2 linked regions of the Homo sapiens genome follow. The protein of the gene in region 1 binds, or shares a complex with, the protein of each later gene. Each region holds a gene or a part of one and is shown on either strand. Other genes may lie near its edges.

Region 1 (7,609 bases):
AGAGAGGCTGAGGCAGGAGAATTACTTGAACCCAGGGGATGGAGGTTGCAGTGAGCCAAGATCACACCACTGCACTCCAGCCTGGGCGACAGAGTGAGACTCTGTCTCAAAAAAATAAAAAATAAAAAAAAATAACAAATGCTGTGTTTTAGTTAAATTATGCTTTTCTCCTGTTGTTCTCAATAAGAGTAGGGTGCATCCTCCCCCACCATCGCTGCAACAGGTACAATGTTAAACCCTCTACCCGTCGGCTGCTCAGGCCCCTGAAGCCCTGTGGGGTCAGGCCCAGCTGGGTTCCGTTGGGGCCCCCATGCCGCCTGCTTGAGCCCTGCCATGCTGCTCAGCTCCCTCCTCAGCTGGGTCCTGCCACTGGATTCCAAGCAGTAAAATCCCCACCTCAAGGAAACCCAACCTGTTGCCAGGAGGGTTGCCCGAGCATCGTCTGACGGGGAAGGGCCTAGGCATGTGGATTTTCAGAGTTCCTGGGAACGGCACGCAACTGGGGATGGAAACCAGCGTCCTAGAGCCCAAGCGTGCCCCAGGTGCAGTGAAGGAGGGACGCCGGCCTTGGGGTTCTGAGGGACGGTGGAGAAGGCAGTACAGTGGCAGTCTCAGAAAGCCCAAGGCCACCTGCACATGGGGGACAGCCCTCGAGGGGGCTCCTCGCTCACCCACCTGCACCTGCTCCTCAGTGGTCTTTTTAATCCCACTGTGGCCCTCGTCATCAAGGGCTCCGTCCTCTCCCTCCTCGTCGCCTTCGTCATCATCCTCACTGCTGTCACTGCCGGAATCTTCCAGGCCTGAGAACACACTTTCCTCGCTGTCGGAGACGCCAGAATCGCTGCCGGTGCTGTGGCTGAGAGGAGAGGTGCAGAGGAGGGGGGGCTGCAAGGAAACACTGGGTTGGTGACAACTGCCCCTCCAGGCATGGGGCACTGAACACTGCAGGGAGAGCTGCCTCTCGCCCCTCCAGCCACCCACCAGCAGCTCCATGTGGCCTCCAGGACCACACCCCTCCAGTCACAAACTTCCACCAAAAGCATCCACCCAACCTGAGCCTTCCTCATCTTCTACCTCCACTGACAAGACAGCCTCTTGCCTTTGCCATCGACATTTTAATTCCTAGCACCTCACAGGGAAGGGGCTTTTCAAGGACAACCTCCTCCTCTTGGAGCTCAGCTCTCATCGCAAAACTAACACTGCTCTCTACCACCCACTGACACTCCGGAGGCCCTGTGGGGTCAGGCTGGGCTGGACTCCACTGGGTCCCTCAGACAGCCTGCCTGAGCCCTCTCCACACCTCACCCTGGCATCCAAGGCCCCAGAGCCAAGAGGTCACTAGAAAAGGGGCTGGGGGCTGGAAGAGAAATGGGTCCCCAAAGGGCTTTTACCACCTGAAGCAGACGCCTCCTCATTTAACCAGATTGGGACCAACGATTGATCAGTAAATTGAAAGGATTGGCTGAAGAGTCACAGGAATGATAGAGACTCTAACCGCAACCACGCACCAACCCACCCACTCCTCTCTCTGAGCAGGACCACAGCTGCCTCTGAGCAGAGCCCTGCTGGCTGCGTGACACCGGCACACACAGTGTTCGGGTCCTTCACTGGCCTTAAAGGGTGGAACAAGAACTTAGACTCTTAGGAAGCAGTTGAAGGCCAGGCACAGTGGCTCACTCCTGTAATCCCAACACTTTGGGAGGCTGAGGCGGGTGGATCACCTGAGGTCAGGAGTTCAAGACCAGCCTGGCCAACATGGTGAAACCATCTCTACTAAAAATACAAAAATTAGCTGGTGGTGGCGGGCACCTCTAATCCCAGCTACTCAGGAGGCTGAGTTAGCCAGGAGGTGGAAGCTGCAGTGAGCCAAGACTGCACCACTGCACTCTAGCCTGGGCAACAGAGCCAGGCTCTGTCTCAAAAAAAAAAAAAAGAAAAAAGAAAGAAAAGGAAAAGAAAAGAAAAAGGAAGCAGTTGAATGCAGAATTCTAGATTTTACTGTTTTCCTAATAGTTTACAAGTCTCACTTAAGGTACGACCTGCATGTATTAGCTATTGCATACCGAGTGTTCACACAATGCCTCTCTCACACAGAGTCATGATGTGTCTTGGTATTCAGTCGGCTACACAATCACAATAACTAGTGGAAATGGCATCCGTGGCCTGGGCGCAAACAACTGGCTCCTGAGGACCGTTTAGTCCAAGGGTGGAAGTCGCAGAACCTGGCGCCTAGAGTGGCCTGCGGGCCATTCAGCCCATGGGAGCCAGGATGAGTTGAATTCGCTTCACAAAGCAATGGGGCAGTTTCAACAACCCAGCGCGGCCGCGGCCGAGGGGGCTGTGAGGGGCTGGCTGTCCATCCCCTCCACCACCCAATTTGATGATCCCCACAACCAAGACAGGGCTGAGCTAGCAGAGAGCAACAGTGAGTTCTAATACAGCAAATGCAGCAGACACTGGGTTCTATTCAGGTTTTCTTATTCTCATGTCTATCCCATGAGCATAAAAACGCAATTAACTAGCGTATACGTAGGTTAAGCATTTACTGGGAGCGCAAGCCGAGCCCTTTTATTGGCAGGATGCACAAATGGAACGGCTGGAGAGGCTGCTGCAAGGGGCGCCCCGTCCCCACTCCCCGCTCCCCCGTTTCTTTGCTTCCCGGACGCCGTCCTTTACCCCGCAGTCCGCTCTGCCTGAGACCCCCCGATAGAGGAGCTGCACCCACGCCCAAGACCGATTCACTGGGCGCGGGCGCCCAGGTGACAGAAGCCGGGCCCACCCGCCCCAGCGCGGCCACGTGCCCGCCGGGCCCTCTAGGGACGCGCCCCGCCGCCCCGCATCGCCACAGTCACCTCCGGCTCGGGCTCAGGCTCCAGTTCGGGCTCAGACCGCCGCTTCTCCGGCCGCACGCTCGGCGCCGCCGTGCGCCCCGCACCCCGCGAACCCGCCATGCCCCACCGCGCGCCGGCCGCCACCCGCACAGCCGCTTCCGACAGCGACCGGGCCGCGTGCGCAGGAGGACGCGCCCCGCCCAGCCCGGCCCCGATTGGCGGGTGGAGGGAAGGGGGTGGGACCAACACGCGCAGGCGCGCGGCTGGGCCGGGGACCAGGGCGGGGTCGGGGCCTGCGTGCTCGCGCCGGGGGTGACGCGGGAGGGCGGCAGCGGCGGCGGCGGGAGCGCGCCCGTTGCAAGATGGCGGCGGCCATGCTGGGCCCCGGGGCTGTGTGTGCGCAGCGGGCGGCGGCGCGGCCCGGAAGGCTGGCGCGGCGACGGCGTTAGCCCGGCCCTCGGCCCCTCTTTGCGGCCGCTCCCTCCGCCTATTCCCTCCTTGCTCGAGATGGATCTGCCCGTGGGCCCCGGCGCGGCGGGGCCCAGCAACGTCCCGGCCTTCCTGACCAAGCTGTGGACCCTCGTGAGCGACCCGGACACCGACGCGCTCATCTGCTGGAGCCCGGTGAGGGCAGCGCGCGGGCGCGGGGCCCGTGGGGACCGGGAGGGAGCAGGGCCGCGGCGGACGGCGCGGGAGGGCTGCGGGGAGGGGCCCTGCCGCACTTCAGCTTACGCGCGGTGAGCCTGCCCTGCCCCCGCCAGAGAAGGGCGGCGGGTCCCGAGCCTGCTCAGACCCAGAGCCTTAAGTTGGGAAAGCGGCTACGAGACCCACACTCGGTTCAACCCCTGCCCCAGCGAAGTTTCCCTGGGATGGGGAGAATGGGGCGTCTCTTGTATTGGGCTTCTGCTAACTGTTGGGCGGTTGCGGAAGTGTCCGCGCTTAGGGCAAGCACCCGGCTTCGCCAGCGGACGCTATGCCCCAGAGGACATCGGCGTCCCCAGGGGACAGCCTACGGGGTGCTGGGTCGGCAACTATTAGGAGAAAGTCAGGACTTGGCACGTGAAGTGGAGGGCGTTGCTGTAGTGGAACAGGAAAGGCAGTGGAAACAGTAAGACGTCATGAAGCTTCAGGTTGATCTCAAGCCCGTTTCCGAATCCCAAATCTGGGTTTCCCAAGAGGAGTTTTGTTTTTCATTCCTTATGGGGCATCTTTATTCGTGTTTCTGTCTTCAGTTGCCTGGCAGCAGGCTTGTTTACATGGTCCGACCCTGCAAGACCGGACAGCTCCGGTTTGCAGAAGTAAATCAGTGATTGTCTGGAGTTGGAGATCAGAATCTGCTGTTCACATCCCGGCTGTGACGTCGTGTCCGGTGAGGGGCAGAGCCACCGCCTGCGGCTGGCAAGTGATGACCTGAAGAAGGGCCACACTGGCCGAGTGGGGTGACTCTTGCTTGTAATCCCAGCACTTTGGGAGGCGGAGGCGGGTGGATCACTTGAGGCCAGGAGTTCGAGACCAGCCCGGACAATATGGCAAAACCCCAGCTCTACTAAAAATACAAAAAATTTGCCGGGCGTGGTGGTGCTTGCCTGTGGTCTTAGCTACTTGGGAGGCTGAGATAGGAGGACTCCCTGGACCTGGGAGGCAGAGGTTGCACTGAACCAAGATCCCGCCACTGCAGCCTGGCAAAGAGTGAGACCCTGTCTAAGAAAAAAAAGAAAAAAAAGAAAGGCCACTGATCATTGGGAGCTTTTGGAGGCACCGTGACCGGCAGGGTGCCACCAAGCATGTGTGGCCTCCCAGGAGCTAAGACCCCAGAGTTCTTCAGGCTCTGCTGAGTGCCTCCCATTTGCACAGCCTCTTTATGCTGTTAGGAATGAAGAAAAGTCTAAACTGAAGCTGCCCCAGGCAGGAGGCCAGGTTTTCTGCTTCTTGGGTTTACTGAGGCTCTGCTTTACCTACAGAGTGTTTGGAAATAAAGAGAAGACTGGAAATCTTTGCTCTTGTTAGAAACACTTTGTGTTTGTCCCGCTGACACCTCTGTGTTGGCCTTCCCATCCCCAGGTCCCATTAAGGCACAGTGCACCTTCCTGGAGGCTGGCTTCATTTCACCATCTCTTCATTCTAGACCTTGGATTCTTGTGCAAAGGAAATACTCCCATGTTTCTGTCTTCTTTTATCCGTCTTTTTCTTTTTTCTTTTTTTTTTTTTTAGACCGAGTCTTGCTCTGTCACCCAGGTTGGAGTGCAGTGGTGCGATCTCGGCTCACTGCGACCTCCACCTCCCGGGTTCAAGCAATTCTGCCTCAGCCTCCCGAGTAGCCAGGACTACAGGTGCGTGCTGCCACACCCGGCTGATTGTTGTATTTTTAGTAGAGACGGGGTTTCACCACATTGGACAGGCTGGTCTGGAACTCCTGACCTCAAGTTATCCACCCGCCTTGGCCTCCCAAAGTGCTGGGATTACTGGTGTGAGCCACTGCACCCAGCCCTTCTTCTTTTTCTTATTCCCCTTAATCCTCAGAAGTTAAGGGGAATAACTCCCCCATTGGGGGAGGGGCATCCGCGATTATCTGGGATATTCTAAGCTTAATCCTACTAGCGTGATCTGTCCTGTCCCGTAATCTGCTTGCTGTTTCTGCTTAAAGATTATGAGGCATGTGGGTTAGGGCCCAGTGTACCCTTTTTTGGGACCGAGGCATGTTCTGGGCAGGGCTTTTGAGCAAGGAAGGCAGGTGTGATGAGGCCCGTGGCCAGCCTCCACTCCACTCACAGGTGCACCACCTGTGGATCTGTTCTCCCTGGGGAGGGATGGGGAGCCAACTGGAATGTGAGTGTTTGGTTCCACCTGGTCAGTATGAAGTGGCAATGGTTGGTGCAGGACGTAGCACTGGGGGCGAGCATGGCAATGAGACAGAAACACTGACTTAAAACTGGAAGGAAGCCCTTCTCCAGGCCGCGCAGGGGGCTGCAGAGCTTTCCGGCGCTGGCTGCCTGGCCTGGAGAAAGGAGGTGATCATCCCATCCTGTGACTTTGAGAGCACTCACACAAGCCCTGAGGACTCCCTGTCAGCAGAGTCCCAACAGGGCACCCTCCCACAAATCTACTGCCCAGGCCCAGCTGGCTCTCGGAGGCCTTGAGAAGGCCCTGGTGCTCTTGCTCTCTGCTGCCTTCTCTGGGAGAGTCTCCTTCTGGCTCAGAGTCTTACCACCATTCTGCCAAGAAAAACCCTCCCTATTTGACACAAGAAGATGAGGCAGAATCACAGGCATGGTGACTAACTCTCAAGGCTGAATAACCTGGGGGAGACCGAGGCCCAGAAACTGGCCAGTAACTTTACTGAGCCTGGCCAGGAATGGGACCAGGTCTGGACCACCATTGCACGTCCCCTCCCTGGCCTGAGATCAGGACTCCCACTGCAGCCACTGGAGGCAGAATGCCGGGTCACTGCCCAGGAGACCCCATTGGTGGGGACTGTGGCAGCTACCCCATCCCTGTGTTGTTTGATTTCCCACCCCCCCCTCCCAAGACCCTCATTCCCATGAGCACCCCACCCACACAGGCAAGGGCCTTGAGGGGACCCAGCAAGTCGTGGAGGACAGCACAGCCTTGGAGAGGAAATGTGTCAGCCACAAGGTTATGATCCCGGGGATCCACATAAGAGCATGGGCGTGCACGTGGGTGGTCCTCCCTCAGCCAGCTTCTCAACAGCTTCTCCCAAAGGTACACCTGGATCCAGTACCACTGAGACCCAAAGACGGGGTTGGGGGACTGAATACCTGGACTGACAGGCACCTCCATAGAACTGAGACCCATGAGACCCGGGACCCGCAGCCTCCCTGCCCCGTGCCCTGGTGCCGGCCCTCAGCCCAGCTTCCTCGTCTGCATGCAGCAGCTCCTCTGTCCACCAGCAGAGGCTCTTCTAGGGCCTTGCTGGGCTGCAGCTGACTCAGGAGGGCAACAGCCTCTTCAGAGAATTTGACAGCATGGAGAACCAAACAAAAGCAGAAAGTGAAGCCTCAGAACTGGGTTCACCATCATCCCAGTTTTTTACAAGCTATGATTTTGTCCCATCTTTATTAACAAGATAAGGAAGTATGAAAAGTAATCTCGACATCTGAGATGGTGAGATTACAGCCCCAGGAGCCACCCAGCTGGCTGAGGAGCCTGAGAACAAGGCACAGCCACATGACCTGTGCCAGACAAATGCTAGAATGATGGTCACGCAGGTTAGAACGAACCCAGGTAGACGGAGGCCTCAGGATCAGGGTGAGGCCAGAGGGGGCACCTGGGTGCAAAATTTAAGGAAGCACTTTTTGTTTTTTAGATAAGGTCTCGCTCTGTTGCCCAGGCTGGAGTGCAGGGCTATGATTGCAGCTCGCTGCAGCCTCTGCCTCCCAGGCTCAAGTGATCCAGTCACCTCAGCTGAGTCACTGGGACTACAGGCTTGCACCACCAGACCTGGCTTTTTTTTTTTTTTCTTTTTAAGGTTTTAGTAGAGACAGGGTCTCGCCGTATTGCCCAAGCTAGTCTGGAACTCACGGGCTCAAGCCATCCTCCCATCTCAGCCTCCCGAAGTGCTGGGATTACAGGCTTGAGCCACCGCGCCTGGCCCTGAGGCATTCCTTTTTAAGACCTACCTGCATTCGGATGGCGCTGGGAGTGGGGGCCTCCTTAGATGTGGGCTCCTGGATGCTTCTCTGTCTTCACCTGGCCCCAGCCTCATGGGTGCAGCTGGAAAGACTCTAGAAGGATGTGCTGAAACCCTGGGGCTCCCTGAG
Region 2 (5,814 bases), on another chromosome or scaffold:
TCACTCTTTTATGGGGGTCTGGCACTGACTTCCAGGATGCGTCTAACCCTTGGGACCCCTATCCAGAGCCTCACTTGTGGCTGGGAACACTTGTGGCCGGAACGCCCCTGGTGGGAAGATCCATGCCACCCCTTCCCTAGGGCAGCGCCTTAAGGGCAGAGCCTTCTTGAGGAGCTTGGGGTCTTTGGGTAGGTCAGACACCCTCCACTCTGTGGGTTGTCTGTCCCTCCTTTGCCCCCATCCCTGCACCCACACTGCTCATGCATCTCTTGTGTTCCCCAGCACCCGACAGACGTGGACTACAGGGTCATGGCCACCTTCACCGAGTTCTACACCACGCTGCTGGGCTTTGTCAACTTCCGCCTTTACCAGTTGCTCAACCTCCACTATCCCCCGAAGGTAGGACCCCAGCCCAGTGCCTTCTGCTCGCCGTGCAGGGGCCACAGCCCTTCTCTGTCCACACAGAGGCGAGGGGCTGTGGCTGTCCTCTGCCTCCTGACCTTCCCTTTGCCTACTAGCTCGAGGGTCAGGCCCAAGCAGAGGCAAAGGCCGGTGAGGGCACCTACGCGTTGGACTCCGAGAGTTGTATGGAGGTGAGAGGCTCCAGGAGCATCATCCGGCATCTCCCAAGGGAGTGGTCTCTGTCCCCAACACCTCTGGGGGTCTGGTTCAGAGTGGGGGTGGTTATGGCTAGGTGGGTGGTCTCAGCCTGCCCTTGGAACCCACACCTGCTGATGCCCAGGACTGTCACTGCTGCCCCTCCCCACCCTGGCCACATGCCCGCATGAGGTCCCCCACTGCAAGCAGCCCCCTTCTCTCCTGTAGAAACTGGCAGCCCTCAGTGCCAGCCTGGCCCGCGTGGTGGTGCCTGCCACAGAGGAGGAGGCCGAGGTGGATGAGTTTCCCACCGATGGGGTGAGCACTGCACTGCCTTCTGGCAGGAGGGCTGGGAGGGGTCGTGTGGGGGGTTTCCCAGCTTAGGGACATTTGCATCCTATAATTAGGTGTTATTTGATGGTCAAAGCAACTGAGCAGAAGAATGGGCTGAATTGTCATCAGAGTTTACATAGGAGGCAACAGAGCTCAGGAGTGGGGCCTTGGAGTTTCCTTTGAAGGCAGGATCCAGGATCTAGAAGGAAGCTGGAGTGGACGTTATCTCCAGCCCTGGCCCTCCAGTGGGGGTGGGCAGCCCTGGTGGTGCGAGGCCTGGCCCCTTTCTCAACAGGAGATGTCAGCGCAGGAGGAAGACCGCAGGAAGGAGCTGGAGGCGCAGGAGAAGCACAAGAAGCTTTTTGAGGGCCTGAAGTTCTTCCTGAACCGAGAGGTGCCCCGTGAGGCCCTGGCCTTCATCATCAGGTAGGGAGGCTCAAGGGCCCGCTGACAGCATTGGTTCGGCCATGCTCTGGTCTGGGTCCTGCCCTGGTGCCCATCGGTAACATTGGGATGGTGTCAGTTTCCACTTCTTATGAAACAGTGTGTGGAAAGTGCTCGGCACCGCACTGAGCACATAGGAAGTGCTCAGCAGAGGGCGGAACTGCCGTCATTTTATTACTAGCTTAGCACAGAAGGATGGGCAGTGGGCAGATCTCTGCTGAGCCAGGATTGAAGGATCCTGGGGTGAGGAGGGGGTAATTGTGTCCTAAGAGGGTGAGTTTATGGGCTGGGTGGCCAGCAGGTCCCAGGGAGCTGAGTCTCAGGACAGGCAGCTCATGTCTGTGTACCCGTGTGGGCTCTCCCTGTCCCTGTAGGAGTTTTGGTGGGGAAGTGTCCTGGGACAAATCTTTGTGCATTGGGGCCACCTATGACGTCACAGACTCCCGCATCACCCATCAGATTGTCGACCGGCCTGGGCAGCAGACCTCAGTCATTGGCAGGTAGGCCCTCAAGGGTCCTCGTCCGGATTTCTGGGTATCCTGTCTCAAAGGCCCTGCGATGCAGCAGGACCCTGAGTTGCCCTCTGTGACTCGTTTTTGCCTGCCACTCTGCGCCAGGTGCTACGTGCAGCCCCAGTGGGTGTTTGACTCAGTGAACGCCAGGCTCCTTCTCCCCGTGGCAGAGTACTTCTCTGGGGTGCAGCTGCCCCCACACCTTTCACCCTTTGTGACCGAGAAGGAAGGAGATTACGTTCCACCTGAGAAGCTGAAGCTGCTGGCTCTGCAGCGGGGAGAGGACCCAGGTGAGCGGGATGGGACTGGGCTGGCCTTGACCCCTGGGCCCACGCTGGCTGTTTCCCTTAGCTGCCAAGGTGGAAAGCTCCAGGGAACAGGCAGTAGGAGCAGAAAGCCCTTTGAAGTCACCTGTAGAATAAGGCTTAGGAGAAGGGACATCTACCTCCTGGGGTCAGGTGTTATTTGACGTTCAGGATGACTGAGCAGAAGAACATGCTGCATTGTCATCAGAGTTTACATTGGAGGCGACAGAGCTCAGGACTGGGGGTCTTGGAATTTCCTCTGATGGCAGCTGGGCTGTGGGGAGGTGCAAGAGAGGGCCACAATTGGGACATCCCTGAACTGCCCATGGCTAAAGACGGCAGGGTCAGAGAGGATGGGGCCTGGGCCTGTTGTCACCCTGCCAGAGAGACAGTAGATTCCCAGGGCATTCAGAGGACATTGGCTTTCTCTAGGAAACCTGAATGAGTCAGAAGAGGAGGAGGAAGAGGACGACAACAACGAAGGTGATGGTGATGAAGAGGGAGAAAATGAGGAGGAGGAGGAAGATGCAGAGGCTGGTTCAGAAAAGGAGGAAGAGGCCCGGCTGGCAGCCCTGGAAGAGCAGAGGATGGAGGGGAAGGTAGGGGGAGCTGCAATGCGGGGCTTGGCCTGGGAAGCAGCCCTGCTTGGTGCCTGCTCTGGCCTAGAAGGTCAGGAGCCAGAGGACTGTGGAGGTCGGGAGAACCTGCCCCCATAAGCACCCTCCTTGTGTCCCCAGAAGCCCAGGGTGATGGCAGGCACCTTGAAGCTGGAGGATAAGCAGCGGCTGGCCCAGGAGGAGGAGAGTGAGGCCAAGCGCCTGGCCATTATGATGATGAAGAAGCGGGAGAAGTACCTGTACCAGAAGATCATGTTTGGCAAGAGGCGAAAAATCCGAGAGGTGAGTTCTTGCCACCCACTTGAGATCCAGGTGTGGCCACCAGACCCAACTGCACAGGTGAACTTATGTGGCTTGGGGCCCTCCTCTAGGCAGACTGAGGCTCTCCTAGCCTTTTCCTGAGGTTGCCTGCCTGGCCCAGCCCAGCCTTTGGGGCCCCCGACCTGGGCCAGTGTAGGCGTCTTGGTACTGCCATCTCCGGCCTGGGCTTTCCTTACGGCTTCCGTCCCACCCCGCATCCGGCTTCCTGAGTCTGCTGGGGTCTGCAAACAGAGCCTTCCCGGCAGACTCAAGGACTGGGGGCGGGGGTGGCGGGGGGGAGCTTTGTTAAACTTCTATCTGTTTTGTATTTTCTTGTTCATGAAGCCATATATGCTAATTAAAAATACAAACTCATGCACCCTGGAACCCTGTGATGAGTGATGCAGAAGTGGCTCACAGCCCTGCCCTTGGAATAGAGCAGCCTGTAGTAACAGCCCCCAGGTTTCTCTTGTGCCCATAATGACCCGTGTTTGGGAGGTCATGCTATAGGTTGTTTTGAGATATAATTTGTTTTTTGAGACAGAGTCTTCCTCTGTCACCCAGGCTAGAGTGCAGTGGAGCAATCTCTGCTCACTGCAAACTGTGTCTCACAGGTTCAAGCAATCCTCCTGCCTCAGCCTCCCGAGTAGCTGGGATTAGGGCGTGTGCCACCACACCTGGCTAATTTCTGTATTTTTAGTAGAGACGGGGTTTTACTGTCTTGGCCAGGCTGGTCTTGGACTCCTGACCTCAAGTGATCTGCCTGCCTTGGCCTCCTAAAGTGTTGGGGTTAGAGGCATGAGCCACTGTACCCAGCCTGAGTTGTAATTTTCATTTAACCATAATATGGACTTCTCATCCAAAACCTGGCCTGTCCCCTGTGATGGGATTAGATTGTTCTCCAGTTTCAGTCATTCTCAGAAAACATCCCTGAGCATGTTCCTGCCCGCCTCTTAATGATTCTGCAGGCTAAATTCTTAGAAGCATAATTGCTGCAGTTTTGAAATAGTTATTGTCAAATGGGTCTGGGCATGGTGGCTCACGCCTGTAATCCCAGCACTTTGGGATACCAAGACAGGAGGATCACTTGAGGCTAGGAGTTCAAGACCAGCGTTGGCAACATATTGAGACCCTGTCTCTACCCCCCAAAAAAAAAAAGAAAGGGCTACGCATGGTGGTGCACACCTGTAGTCAATCCCAGCTACTCCGGAGGCTGAAGTGGGAGGATCGTTTGAGGCTGCAGTGAGCTATGATTGTGCCACTGTGCTCCAGGCTGAGCAACAGAGAAAGACCCTGTCCCTTTAAAAAAATTAAAAATATATTGTCAGATGACCCCGGAAAGAAGGTTCTTCCTGTTGTACCCCTTTCCACCAGCTCCTGGTGAAGGTTCTAGTGGCATCCAGCTTTCCCAGGTGGTGTAGGGAAATGGGGCAGTTGCCAAGGCTCCTTCCAGCTCTGGGAGTTTAGGATTCTCTTATCTCGAGATTTGTGGGCCCATGAAATAATGTTGTTAAAGCAGGGCTAGCGCATGTTTTCTCACCATGAAGTGGGTCAGGTAGATTTTTTTCCTGTGAGAATTTGTGACCTTTTCTTGAAGCTCTGCTTTTAAGGGATATAGCTTTGAGTTCTGTGCCCCCCACCCTCCCTTCTACACATACCTCAGCCTGACCTTCGCCTTCCCCCTCACAGGCCAACAAGCTGGCGGAGAAGCGGAAAGCCCACGATGAGGCGGTGAGGTCTGAGAAGAAGGCCAAGAAGGCAAGGCCGGAGTGAGTGCCTGCGGCCCCTCACAGGGCTGAGGCCAGCCCCTAGCAGCTGGATGTGGCAGAGGCAGGCCAGAGGACCTAAGTGTGATGGACCAGAGTCACTTCTCCTCCTCCTTTCTCCAGCCAGCCCTGACCCCTCATGCTCTCTGGCTGGGCCAGTGGGCAGCCCTCGCTTCCCTTGGATGGAGCTGCCCTGCTGGTGCCTGGTCAGAGAAGAGGCCTCTGTGCCCAGCCTGATTCTCTGCTCCCAGGAGCCAGTGACATGAGGTGCAGAGGCCCACCCAGCCCCCTACCTACTGCCCCCATTCATCCTGGCTTTCCACAGCCCCCTCCCACACAGTTGGACCCGTGATTCTCAGGGTGCTGTGATGGGGTGAGGGTAGGGGGAGCATTTGTTATTAAATGACTGGACTTTTGTGCCAATTGCATTTTGTGTCCATGAGCCTTCCTAGGGTTGGAGGAGGCCTACCTAGCACTCTATGCTGCAGGCTGGGCCAGCCCTGGGTATTTACTGAGACAGAGCTGGGCACTGCTCAGAGCTCTCTGGATGTCCAAGGACCCCTCCAGGTCCAGGGATGCCAAAAGGTAGGTGCAGAGGTTCTGGACCTGGGCTTCACAGCCTGTCTGACCATGGTTCACATTCTAACCCAGGCATTTTCCCTCTGCACCTGCTTCCTCATGTGTCAGTTACTGGTAGAGATTCTGTTCTTTGAAAGGGATGTGTTGAGGGTTCTGTGATAACTTTATAGTCTCAGACCTTATGGACTTGGTAATATCAGGTGTGTGGTAAGTACTTGGTAAACACCAACTGATTTATATCACTTCCTGCTGGACTCGGCCCAGAAGGTAAAAGCCAGAACCGGAAGGATCTGTGGGTCTGCGGTGAGGTCCTGCCCTCAGCTTGCCTTGGCGCGTTGGCAGAACCGCTGAGTACCTCCCA

The links. The genes of interacting proteins can lie anywhere in the genome.
Region 2: BOP1 (region 1) and PES1 share a complex: the UniProt entries of both Homo sapiens proteins name them as parts of the peBoW complex.

The regions. Positions count from the first base shown.
Region 1 is NC_000008.11:144,288,420-144,296,028, forward strand, and holds the start of BOP1 (ribosome biogenesis protein BOP1), read right to left. Parts: upstream 3,020-7,609; 5' UTR 2,952-3,019; coding exon 2,853-2,951; intron 886-2,852; coding exon 676-885; intron 1-675. Other genes in the region: HSF1 (heat shock factor protein 1), read left to right, coding at 3,339-3,455. UniProt on the Homo sapiens protein: Component of the PeBoW complex, which is required for maturation of 28S and 5.8S ribosomal RNAs and formation of the 60S ribosome.
Region 2 is NC_000022.11:30,576,113-30,581,926, reverse strand, and holds the end of PES1 (pescadillo homolog), read left to right. Parts: intron 1-282; coding exon 283-399; intron 400-518; coding exon 519-593; intron 594-825; coding exon 826-915; intron 916-1,225; coding exon 1,226-1,356; intron 1,357-1,748; coding exon 1,749-1,874; intron 1,875-1,991; coding exon 1,992-2,176; intron 2,177-2,623; coding exon 2,624-2,790; intron 2,791-2,928; coding exon 2,929-3,090; intron 3,091-4,797; coding exon 4,798-4,881; 3' UTR 4,882-5,302; downstream 5,303-5,814. UniProt on the Homo sapiens protein: Component of the PeBoW complex, which is required for maturation of 28S and 5.8S ribosomal RNAs and formation of the 60S ribosome.